Homo sapiens: one gene and its partners. The protein of the gene in region 2 binds, or shares a complex with, the protein of the main gene of each other region. Each region holds a gene or a part of one and is shown on either strand. Other genes may lie near its edges. A codon is read from its position in the direction of its gene.

Region 1 (3,748 bases), on a different chromosome or scaffold from region 2:
TTTCTTACCTTTTTTGAAAAAAAACTAGAAGAGGCTCCACAGCATTCATAATATATGCAAAGGGGACTATACAATCCCCCAAAAAATCAAGCATCAGTGAATTAGAATATACTTTAGGATACTGATGTTACCTATATTACTTAGCCTTTTGAATCATTATAGTCCAGTTCACTCATTTTCTTTTTTTTTTTTTTCTTTTTTAGATACAGGGTCTCACTGTTGCCCAGGCTGGTCTCCAACTCCTGGGCTCAAGTGATCCTCCCATTTCAACCTCCCAAAGCGCTGGGATTACAAGCGTGAGACACCACACCTGGCCAGTTCACAGTTTAAATGAAGCTCTTTCCTACTTTAGAACTTCTGCTAAATGCTGTAGCTTCCAACTGGCATGTTCTTTGTACAATTAGGTATTCCCGATACTTCAGATCTAGAAGTATACATTTAGGAACTTTATGAGAATTAAATGTACTGAAGAACCAAAAATAATGTCAACCATATAGAAAGTGTTCAATAGGTCAGGCGCAGTGGCTCATGCCTGTAATCCTAGCACTTTGGGAGGCCAAGGCAGGCGGATTACTTGAGGTCAGGAGTTCAAGACCAGCCTGGCCAACATGGTGAAACTCCATCTCTACAAAAAATACAAAAATTAGCTGGGCGTGTTGGTGGGTGCTTGTAATTCCAGCTACTCAGAAGACTGAGGCATGAGAACTGCCTGAACCCAGGAAGTGGAGGTTGCAGTGAGTTGAGATAGCACCACTGTACTCCAGCCTGAGTGACAGAGCGAAAACTGTCTCTAAAAAAAAAAAAAGAAAGTGCTCAATAAATATTAGGTATTATCTGAAACTCCATTACATATACAGGTTTCCTATCACCATTTATTCTCTCAGCATTCTGCTAATTTGTTGTAACATTTTATTGGCCAGGCATGATGGCTCATGCCTGTAATCCCAATACTTGGACTTTGGGAGGATGAGGTGGGAGAATCATTTGAGCCCAGGAGTTCAAGACCAGCCTGGGCAACAAACTGAGAACCCACCTGAACTAAAAATAAAAACAGCTTGGTGTGATAGTCCATGTCTGTAGTCCCACCTACTCGGGAGGCTGCAGCAGGAGGATCAGTTGAGCTCGGGAGCCTGAGGCTACAGTAAGCCATGTTGGCACCACTGCACTCCAGCCTCGGCAACAGAGTAGGACGCTCTCTTGAAAAAAAAAAAAATTATTTCTAGAGTATAAGCTCCCTGAGGACAAAGTCTGTGTCTCATACATCATTATACACCCAGGATCTAGCACAAAATCGCACTCAAATATCACCAAATAATCATGCTGGAATCAATAAAACTCACAGGCCATACGCAGGGGGAAGGTTCAATGACCTCTATAGTACTAGCGATGGGGAGGATAGTGTTAACTTTAATGTGGCAAGGAATAAAGAATGAGCAAGTGTGTTTTGTCAAGGGAAAGAGGCAGGCACTTGAGATTAACTGAATGGATGTATTGAATTTGAGGTAGAAAAACTAAACGGAAGTTAGAAATACAAGGGACATCTGGACGCCAAAAATCTAGTAGTGGTTAAGAACATGGCCTCTACAGGCAGTCTAAGTTTAAATCCCAGTTCTACTGCCTCCTAGTTGCATAGATTACTTAACCTTTGGGCCTCGATATGCCAGTGTCAGAAAAAATAAAAAAAAGACACCAATTATACCTGTATCAACCTCACTGAGTTGTTTTGAGAATTAAATGAATACTGAATGAATTAAATGAATACTGAAATACTGAAGCACTGAAATAACAATTAGGAAAGAGTAAATAAATGCTAGGTATTATTAAGATGGTACATGGTAGCTAAAAATCTGATTCTGAATATACAGTGAGAACATAAAATAGAACCAGAACCCCACATAATAACAACTGGGAACAAAAGAAAGAAAACATATGAAGAAAAGTGATAAGTGGATGACAGGAAAAACAGAGCGGAAGCAAAAGAAAACAGTTTTGAAGGATTTGTTAACAACAGAGTGTTGGTTAAGTACATACGGTTTATAAGGCCAAAGGATTTGGCAATTTGAAGGTCAATCATGAACAGAAAACATAGTGTTCTACGAAGTGTTTAGAAGGGAGGAGAGAAGAAAGCGAAAAGGCAGACTACAGAGTGGGGTTAATGGGTAGTGGAGGAGCATAAAGAGAATTCTAGATCAGTGGTCCCTAAACTTCATTTCAAGGGCTTCAAAAAGAAACAGGGAATCTGACACAAGGTAGTGGACTCCCTTAATACTATCAATAAAATTTTTTTAACTATTATCACCATCATCTGAAAAAGGAAATGCCTAACAGTAAAAATGTATGAAGGCTAAAAATCCCAGAACAAAGGGAACACCTTTATGAAAAATCACTGTCGGCCGGGCGCGGTGGTTCACGCCTGTAATCCCAGCACTTTGGGAGGCCAAGGTGTGCAGATCACGAGGTCAGGAGATCAAGACCATCCTGGCTAACACGGTGAAACCCCATTTCTACTAAAAATACAAAAAAATTAGCTGGGCGTGGTGGCAGGCACCTGTAGTCCCAGCTACTGGGGAGGCTGAGGCAGGAGAATGCCGTGAACCTGGGAGGCAGAGCTTGCAGTGAGCCAAGATGGTGCCACTGCACTCCAGCCTGGGCGACAGTAGAGCGAGACTCCATCTCAAAAAAAAAAAAAAAGAACATAAACTCTTTGACTACATTTTCTTGTATTAGCTATGTCATATTTTTACACTTGGCAAACAAGCATTTTGTATATACCCAAAATCCACTTACTACATACAAACTATAAAGAAAAATATAAGGACACATTAGCAATATATATAAACTATGCCTTGCAGCAGCATCACAGGCGCTCAATAAAACTTTATTGAAATGTACTCAAGTGGTGTGGGCCACGCAATACTAGATGAAGAATTACAAGTCAGATTCCACTCTATAAAAAAGAGCTAAGACAGTATAACATAATGGTTACAAGAGTGGTAACATGACTACAGGCTTTGGAATCAGACAGACTTGGGTTCAAATCTCAGCTGCAATACTTTATGGCTAGGTGACCTTGGCAAAATGATTTAACCTACCTAAATTTGTCTCCTCACCTGTAAAACAGGAATACTCACCTCATGAGGTTATAGTGCTGATTAAATGGCAGTTTCTAACTTTTAGAAGTCGTAACATGATAGATGTTGCTGCTTAAAGATCCTTAAGTTAGTAGGAGATATTTTGCTTAGACTTACTTGATTTCTTCATTTTTAAGGGGGGAATCTCCTGAATTTTCCATTTTCAGGGTTTTCAAAAGCTGGTCTGGAATAGTAATTTGCAAATCCTAGTGTCTTTTCCATGACAAGATTTTAATGAATCTACTATGAAATTACAAAAAAGAAAAGTGTAGTGTAGTAATTTTTCTCTTTAACAGGCACTACTGTGAAGAAAGAATCACTTGTAGAACTCTAAAAAATATGCAGGCCTCTTATCCTCTGGAGATCTGGATTGATCTAGGGCTTGAAGAAAATGGACTGTCTGTGGAATTTTGGTAATTCATGTTATATAAAAGTTAAGAAACCACTGTCCTATGACCTTACTAACAATGCTTTACCTGAGTCTAAGGTAAGGAAGAATCAGAGACAGAAGAGCTTTAAGATGTGATCCTTTAGTTTGGTTCCAAGTTTCTAAGACAGACCTTTACTCTAAATTCTTTTTACAGAGAACAGAATCATACTGTAAAGTTCCTTTTAAT
Region 2 (3,748 bases):
CTAACGTGGGTGGATCGCTTGAGCCCAGGAGTTTCAGACCAGCCTGGGCAACATGGCGAAATGTCATCTCTACCAAAAAACAAACAAACAAACAAACAAACAAACAACCCCACAAAAATTAACAGGGCGTGGTGGTGTGCACCTGTAGTCCCAGCTGCTCCGGAGGCAGAGGTGAGACGATGGCTTGAGCCCAGGAGGCAGAGGTTGCAGTGAGCCGAGATCGTGCCATTACACCACGGCCTGGTCGACAAGAGCCAGACCCTATCTCACAAAGCAAAAAAACAAGCACACAATCTAAAACAATCTCAAGATTTCAATTTGGTTCATTTCGAATTTATTCAAAGTTTCTTACTGCAGAGTGAGACTGGTGAGCTTTCAGGACTGGTTCAGCATCCACCGCTTTTTTAGCAACCATTAACTGTAACATCTGTTTCCGATATTTGCTCATGATAAGTTCCAAAGCATCCTGGTGTTCCTCCAAGGAAATCCATAGCTCTGTCAAAAAATAAAAGAACTTGGCAGTGATGTCTGAGAGACAGTTCCCAAATCCAAAGTCTTAACAGTTGGAATTTTGTAACACTATATAGATAATATGAATCTAAAGTTGTAAATCAATGTTTAAGTCCGCAAAACTGAACAGTTAAAGTCTATGTGAAAGGTAACTTTCTAGGCAGAGAAGCAAAGTCTTGCAGAAACAACAATGGATGTATCATCAGAAGACATGTGTTTGAGTTCAGTTCTGTAACTTGCTTGGTTAATACTCATAAGTAAATCATTTAGCTTCTTCTGAGCCTATTTCTTAACTGCATTGTGGTAGATAAAAATGAAGATATGAGAATACAGTAGAATGATATATGTGAAACCCCTCTGGTAAACAACTATTAATACCACAATCATTAATAATGTACTAATCAAGCCTAAGAATATATACCCTTAGAATAAAATTCTGCTGCTTCACCTTGCACAAACAAGAACATAAACAAAACCTTAAATCTTACCTTCAGTGTTTATATTAATACTTAAACATTAAATTTTAAGTCCATGAGGCTATGAACTCTTTTGTTACACATCTGAGGATGCTTAAAAATAAACCATGCAATAATACCAACTCTACACAGCACCTCTTTGGTAAGCTGCTGCAATATTAGTCAGATGACCTTGAAAAGGGTAATCTAACAAACTTTATTGTTACTGGGCCAGATCAGGAGGACTCTCCTACTAAAAGTACTGACCTGGAAATATATGTACACTTTTGTAAATGTTTAGGGCAATTTTGCAATAACTTTAAACTATTACCAGATATGAAAAGGCCTGACTAACCTCTGTTTTCCTGTTGCAAGTCTCTAATCTGTGTGTTCTCTTGGGACAGCAGAATGTGAGGTTTGTATTTGGACATGTCCTTCATATCGGATGCATCCTCTTGATACTGGACAAATAGAGACAGACTAAGCATGCCTTAAAGAGAACAGCGGCAGATGCAACTGAAGAGGCAGAAGTTAGGGCTCCAGGGCAGGATTCTCAGCCCCGACCCAGGAAAATGGTCTCACCGCCGCCCTCTGAGACCGGGAATAAATTCCAGGCCGAGTTCCCACTTTACCTCGCTCTCCACCCTTCAGTGCCCAGAATCCGAGAGCACTGGACTCCTACCCTCTGCCTGACCTGGTCCGGAAGCGCTGTCCCCGCCTCCCGCATAGCTGCTACCCGCCGGTGCAGCGCCGCCGACTGATCCACCAGCGACTCGGCGGCCGCATCGTGCTCCCGTAGCCTCTCCAGCAGCGTCTTGGCGTCTGTCAGGATCTTCTCGATGGTGCAGCTCATAGCAGCAGCACCACCCCAGCCCCTGCCGGGCTCAGCTACGCGACTCGCTCAGATCTTCTGGGAGTCTGTCTCAGCATTACAGGCGTCATTTCCGGGCACGTTTACAAGGTGTCTTGGTAGGCGCAATGGGCGCCTGCGCAGTGGCAGCCTATTTTGCGGGTTGACCCGCTTTAACCTGCGGCTTCCTTGCAGTCCTTCCTTGCGCGGAGCCCCAGACCTACACTTGCCACGCCGTTGGTTTCCAGTTACCACAGCCTGGTGGTCAGGCTATGATTAGCTGGGCAGTGGGAAGGTCTCCTTTCCCTACTGGTTTTCATTGATGTGGGTTGTTCTTCAGTCACAGTTAGTTTCTTTTTATTTTCATTATTTTTTTCTTTTTTGAGACGGAATCTTGCTCTTGTCCAGGCTGGAGTGCAGTGGCGCGATCTTGGCTCATTGCAACCTCTGCCTCCAGGGTTCAAGCGATTCTCCTGCCTCAGCCTCTCGAGTAGCTGGGATTACAGGCATGCGCCACCACGCCGGCTGATTTTTCTATTTTTAGTAGAAACGGGGTTTCACATGTTGGCCAGGCCGGTTTCGAACTCCTGACCTCAAGTGATCCGCCCGCCTCGGCCTCCCAAAGTGCTGGGATTACAGGTGTGAGCCCCCGCGCCTGGCCTACTTTCATTTAATTTTTTTTAAATTGTGGCAAAATACACATAAAATTTAATATCTCAGCCATTTATAAGTGTACAGTTCAGTTGTACATTCATATTGTTATACAGCCACCATCAGCATCCATCTCTAGAACTCTTTCATCTTGCAGTACTGAAGTTCTGTACTCATTAAACAATAATTCCTCATTCTTCCTTATCCCCAGCTCCTGGCAGCCACCATTCTACTTTGTGTCTCTACAAATCTGACTATTCTGGGTACCTGACATGAGTGAAATCATACAGCATTTGTATTTATATAACTGCCTTATTTCACTTAGTGTAATGTCCACGAGTTTCATCCATATAGTAGCATATGTTAGAATTTCCTTCCTTTTTAAGGCTGAATAATATATATATACCACGTTTTGTTTATCCATTCATCCGTGGATGGACAGTTGGGTTGCTTCCACCTTTTGCTATTGTCAATAATGCTGCTATTGCAACTGGCTCACGTCTGGCTGCTTGCTGCCTAGAGGCCAAAAACATGAGAAGTGACCTGTGGTGAAAGCTTTACTAATCAAATGCTCGCAGATGGGGAATGGCTAGGCTCATGCCTTCAAAACAGCATTCCACTTTTTTTTTTTTTTTGGTCAAGGTATCCCAGAGACAGTATCAGTGTCCAAACTTTAATTTTGTCCCATATCAATGCCAGGGTGGTGTGCTACCTGCCCTGAGTCCATCATGTCCCTCCTGCGGCCAACTGACTTAGAGTCAAAAGAGTTACAGCCAATTAAACGTTCTAGGTCAGATGGGAAGGAGGTGGGCAGGCACTCATTAACCTTAAAACCCCTCTTAAGCAATGTTAAGAGGCAAAAACCAAAAGGCAAGGGTTACAAAATTGACTTATCTATAAATTCTATGCATTGAGCTGCTGTAATCTTGGCTTGTTGCAATTAGCTATACAAAATGCAAGCATTTTGTTTAGCTGTTTTGGCATCTGTGTCATCCTTGATTTGTAGGGTCTGAACTAATTTTAGCTCTCAATACTGGCCCTTACAACATTACGTTATAGTCTCTAGGCATGGCGGGATTGAAGAGTTTCAACTTTTGTAGGTAAAACAAAACAGAAAGAATTAACAACATTTCAAACACAAAGGTCATAAACCCTGCCTAGTTTTGAGAATAACAGGAAAAGAAGTTCATAGGTAGCTAAACACTTAAATTATTTAGTATCAAGGCACAGAATAAATTATATTAATTCAGATAGAGGCAGAATTGTTAAATGAATCTTAATA
Region 3 (3,748 bases), on a different chromosome or scaffold from region 2:
CCGTGTTTGTGGAAATTCATGAAACCATTCAGCGAATACCATATTTATTGTGGTTTTCCTATCTTCCTTCATTCAGTTCAGTTACTTCTCCCAGACCATCCCTGACCCCTTGGGCAGCTAGTGCCTGCCTCTATCTTAGCCCTGATTACATCAATTTCATGTTTGTCACTCCCTACCCTCATTTCTAACCCACAATACCGTTATGATCTCAGAAGGCAGGAATTGAAGTTTGGTTCAGTTATGTGTCCCCAGGGCCCAGCAAAAACCTAGGACACGGCCAAACTGTCTATATAAGTATTGAGATGAATAACTGCTACTTTTTCTTTCTTTCTTTCTTTTTTTTTTTTTTTTTGGAGAGACAGTTTCACTCTTGTTGCCCAGGCTGGACTGCAATGGCGCGATCTTGGCTCACCGCAACCTCCGCCTCCCGGGTTCAAGTGATTCTCCTGCCTCAGCCTCCCAAGTAGCTGGGATTACAGGCATGCGCCACCACGCCCGGCTAATTATGTATTTTTAGTAGAGACGGGGTTTCTCCATGTTGGTCAGGCTGGTCTCAAACTCCCGACCTCAGGTGATCCGCCTGCCTCGGCCCCCCCAAAGTGCTGGGATTACAGGCGTGAGCCACCGCGCCCGGCCTAATTGCTACTCTTTATTGAACAACATGGATTAACATTTTGAAGTCTCACCACATCAAGTGAATTAACTATTATTAACATGTCATCCATGAGAAAAAAGAGGCTTGAAAAAGTTTAGAAACTTGCTTAAGGTCACACAGTGGTGGAGCCTGTTATTGCAGGAATCTGAAGAATGAAGTCACCTTTGATTCTAAATGAGTAAGTCTCCTTCTCACTATTTTTTCTTAAAGTTTTCATTTAGCCCTTGCAAAGTCTTCCTTCTTTAGACCAATGACTCCTCATCTTGATATTGTAAGTGGGGGAAATACCCTCTTTTTTCACTTTGGAAATTATTCAATCTCTCTTTGGAAGAAACATGATTTTAAACTTTCTGGACGCTCCTTCTGTGGAAGAATCCGCGCAGGAGCCCTGGGGGCACATAATAGGTTCAGTGAGAAAGACTGTCATTCGAAATGGAATGCGGGAACTAAGATTTTTTTTTTCCGGGAAGAAAACATAACGAATTTAGCAGAGGGGAGAATGGTCCTTCTGTTAGGTGCACAAATCCTAAGACTTCAGGGAGTTTGGCGGCTCACACTTAAGGTAGCTGCGGGTGACTGTGTTGCCCACAGCTAAGATGGCTGCTAATGACCATCTCCTTTGGCTGGGTCTGTTCTTTTGCTCGCTAGTATTTTCATCGAGAATTAAACAGAATAAAATTTAGTAAAAGTTGGCACCCCCTTGCTAAGTAGATAAAATAAGAAGGTGGCACTGTTTGTTTGAAAAACCTTCTACGGCGCAAATTGTTCTTGCCCTTAACCAAAATGGTCGTTAAGGTTGTCCCGAGGTTTGAAGCTTCCAGCCCTTAACTAAGATGGCGCCTGGAGGCCCGTTAAAAATTACCTTGCCCTTTTTTCTGCCCTCTACCAACACGGCTTCCGTGGCGTCGTTCACGTGACATTCCTGGACTACGGCGCGGGAGAGGGGGTAGGAGGGCCCTTGAAGGGTGCGCGTTCCCGTGGCGGTGCACCGGGTAGGTTTCAGTCAGAGTCACTATGGCGGCCGGCGCTGGCAAGGTAAGCTGAGGCGGTGGTGGCGGCTAGGGAGGTAGGACCCGTCGTGGCGTCCTGGCTCCAAATCCTCGTAGCCTGCTTGCGGAGAGGTCGGCGGAGGTCGTGCCTAGCGGTGTGGGCTGGCGGGGGTCTGGCTGGAGGGGGCGACGGCTGAGGCGGGCGGGCTGAGGCGCCTGACGGCCGTTTGTTTTGATGTTTTCCCCACCAGGTCGGAAAGTTTCCTGCCTCGTCGGGCGCAGCTTGAGCTTGCCCCATCGGCCGCGATCGGTGGAGGCTGCGGCGGATCCAGCCCGGGGCCTCAAGGCCTCTCCCCAACCTCCGGGCCAGTCTCCCTCCCCCACCTTCTCGTCCGCCGGGAGCTGCGGCTGCCGTCCCTGAGATGCGACCCTCGCGGGGGCGACCCTGAGGGGAGGCGGCCCATGTGCTGAGCGGCGGCCCAGAAGCCTAGGCGTCCGGGGACCAACTTCCTGCCGCCTGGGAACTCGAGCCTCCCGGTGTCGCGCCTCGCTCGGTCCGCACCGGCCTGCGGAGCCGGGTCCCCGCCCTGGTCGCGGGGACGCTCGCCAGGTGCCCAGGAGTCCCGACTTGGCCACTGCCCGCGCCCCGCCGGCCTCCACGCCTCGCGCGGAGAACCTCAGCCACCGCCGTCTCGGATCGTGCCAGGCCGGGGACCGCGTCCCCCTTCCCGGGGCGGCCTCCGCTCAGCAGGGGCGATGCAGACTGTCCCGCCGGCCGTCTAGAGCCCCTCCGTCTCCGTCACCTCTCGCCCCTTCACTCCGGGCGAGGACTGGCGGTGGCTGCCCAGAGGTGCCCAGCCACACCTTCCTTCGGCCCAAAAGGACTTTCCTGGCCGCGCCGAACCGACCCTTCATTCATGCTGCAGTGCTGCAACGTTTCCGCCACCAAGGGGGAAAAGCGGCCGCGATCTCAAACCAAACACAAGAATTGGCGTGTGACTCATCTGCTTGGATACCTCCAGTCCCCAAACTGTGTTCCAGGAGTTTTCTTGGCCGAAGCTGCCCGATGTTTGAGCCTTTTCTTCCCAGAGAAGAAGATGGACTGAAAGCTGCCAGTTGGGGACTTTTTGTGATCACGGCGTTGCAGCGTTTTAAAGGAGGTGATGGGGCTTGCGCTGGCTTGTCTTCCCACCCAAGTGAAGAGTTGATGTTCACTGGTTATGCTTAGACAATGTGCAGTTTGTGTTAATTTAAAATTTTGGGTGGGATAGGGGCATAGGCTTGTGAAGGGCAGTCCGGATCCGGAGGAACTCCTCTTTGTCCCTGGTAGGAGAGACACCCCCAGTCTATCCTCGATGCCGTCAGCCTTGGCCATCTTCACTTGCCGCCCGAACTCGCACCCGTTTCAGGAGCGTCATGTCTACCTGGACGAGCCCATCAAAATCGGCCGCTCAGTGGCCCGCTGTCGACCAGCGCAGAATAATGCCACTTTTGATTGCAAAGTGCTATCAAGGAACCACGCTCTCGTCTGGTTTGATCACAAGACGGGCAAGGTAATGTCACCACATTGTCCAGCGGCATTGTTTAACAAACTTTTTTTCCCCTTTTGCCCTCCCTGAGAGGACTAATGTATGCAGGATCCCAGGGTTTGCATCCAGAGGAGGCTTTGCGCAAAGCCACGAATCAACTGTTTGTGTGCCTGGTTCTAGTGGAAATTTGATTGAGGTGGTTGAATGGAAAACAGAGAAGGTATTGTAATTAAAAGCCTCAGGAGGGCTATGGCATCTTGATAACGTGGTCATTCCCAGTGAAATCCCAAACTAGATAGTGAAACTTGGCGTCTTGCTTTTAGTCTGTTTAGAAAGGTGAATTCACAGTTCAGCGCTTTATTAAGCAAGCAGCAGTTCTCGAAGCAATTCGGGGAATCCGTGGCCATTATTATCCCGGGGCTCAAGTGTCTTAGTGGTGAAATGTAGTTAACACATAGCTTTAGGTGAGTTCAGATCAGGACCTTTCTAGTAAGGATAATTGCTGATATAAACCTAAGATTTTTGAAAGGTTTGATACATACTTGCCCTTGGAGGAGTAATTTGCAATAATCAAA

What was found.
Region 1: the proteins of SIKE1 (region 2) and STRN3 are in contact, whole or in part, in a crystal structure (PDB 6AKL), measured with the Homo sapiens proteins. Residues at the interface, in NP_079349.2 of Homo sapiens: Glu96 (codon at 475), His97 (codon at 472), Ala100 (codon at 463), Leu103 (codon at 454), Ile104 (codon at 451), Ser106 (codon at 445), Lys107 (codon at 442); in NP_001077362.1 of Homo sapiens: Arg176, Leu179, Tyr182, Leu183, Val186, Tyr188.
Region 3: the proteins of SIKE1 (region 2) and SLMAP are in contact, whole or in part, in a crystal structure (PDB 6AKM), measured with the Homo sapiens proteins. Residues at the interface, in NP_079349.2 of Homo sapiens: Ile5 (codon at 1,806), Ile8 (codon at 1,797), Leu9 (codon at 1,794), Ala12 (codon at 1,785), Lys13 (codon at 1,782), Leu16 (codon at 1,773), Leu19 (codon at 1,764), Arg20 (codon at 1,761), His22 (codon at 1,755), Asp23 (codon at 1,752), Ala26 (codon at 1,743), Glu27 (codon at 1,740), Leu29 (codon at 1,734), Val30 (codon at 1,731), Ser33 (codon at 1,722), Ala34 (codon at 1,719), Leu36 (codon at 1,713), His37 (codon at 1,710), Val40 (codon at 1,701), Met43 (codon at 1,692), Arg44 (codon at 1,689); in NP_001291349.1 of Homo sapiens: Leu168, Tyr171, Leu172, Glu174, Ala175, Arg178, Glu179, Met181, Leu182, Lys185, Thr188, Leu189, Leu192, Leu193, Ile195, Thr196, Ala199, Ser200, Thr202, Ser203.

What each region holds. Positions count from the first base shown.
Region 1 is NC_000014.9:31,019,707-31,023,454, forward strand, and holds part of STRN3 (striatin-3), read right to left. Parts: intron 1-3,748. UniProt on the Homo sapiens protein: Calmodulin-binding scaffolding protein which is the center of the striatin-interacting phosphatase and kinase (STRIPAK) complexes.
Region 2 is NC_000001.11:114,778,790-114,782,537, forward strand, and holds the start of SIKE1 (suppressor of IKBKE 1), read right to left. Parts: upstream 1,897-3,748; 5' UTR 1,819-1,896; coding exon 1,660-1,818; coding exon of another isoform or gene 1,648-1,659; exon of another isoform or gene 1,598-1,647; intron 1,427-1,597; coding exon 1,321-1,426; intron 496-1,320; coding exon 353-495; intron 1-352.
Region 3 is NC_000003.12:57,754,653-57,758,400, forward strand, and holds the start of SLMAP (sarcolemmal membrane-associated protein), read left to right. Parts: upstream 1-1,656; 5' UTR 1,657-1,690; intron 1,691-1,895; 5' UTR 1,896-2,999; coding exon 3,000-3,197; intron 3,198-3,748. UniProt on the Homo sapiens protein: Associates with the striatin-interacting phosphatase and kinase (STRIPAK) core complex, forming the extended (SIKE1:SLMAP)STRIPAK complex.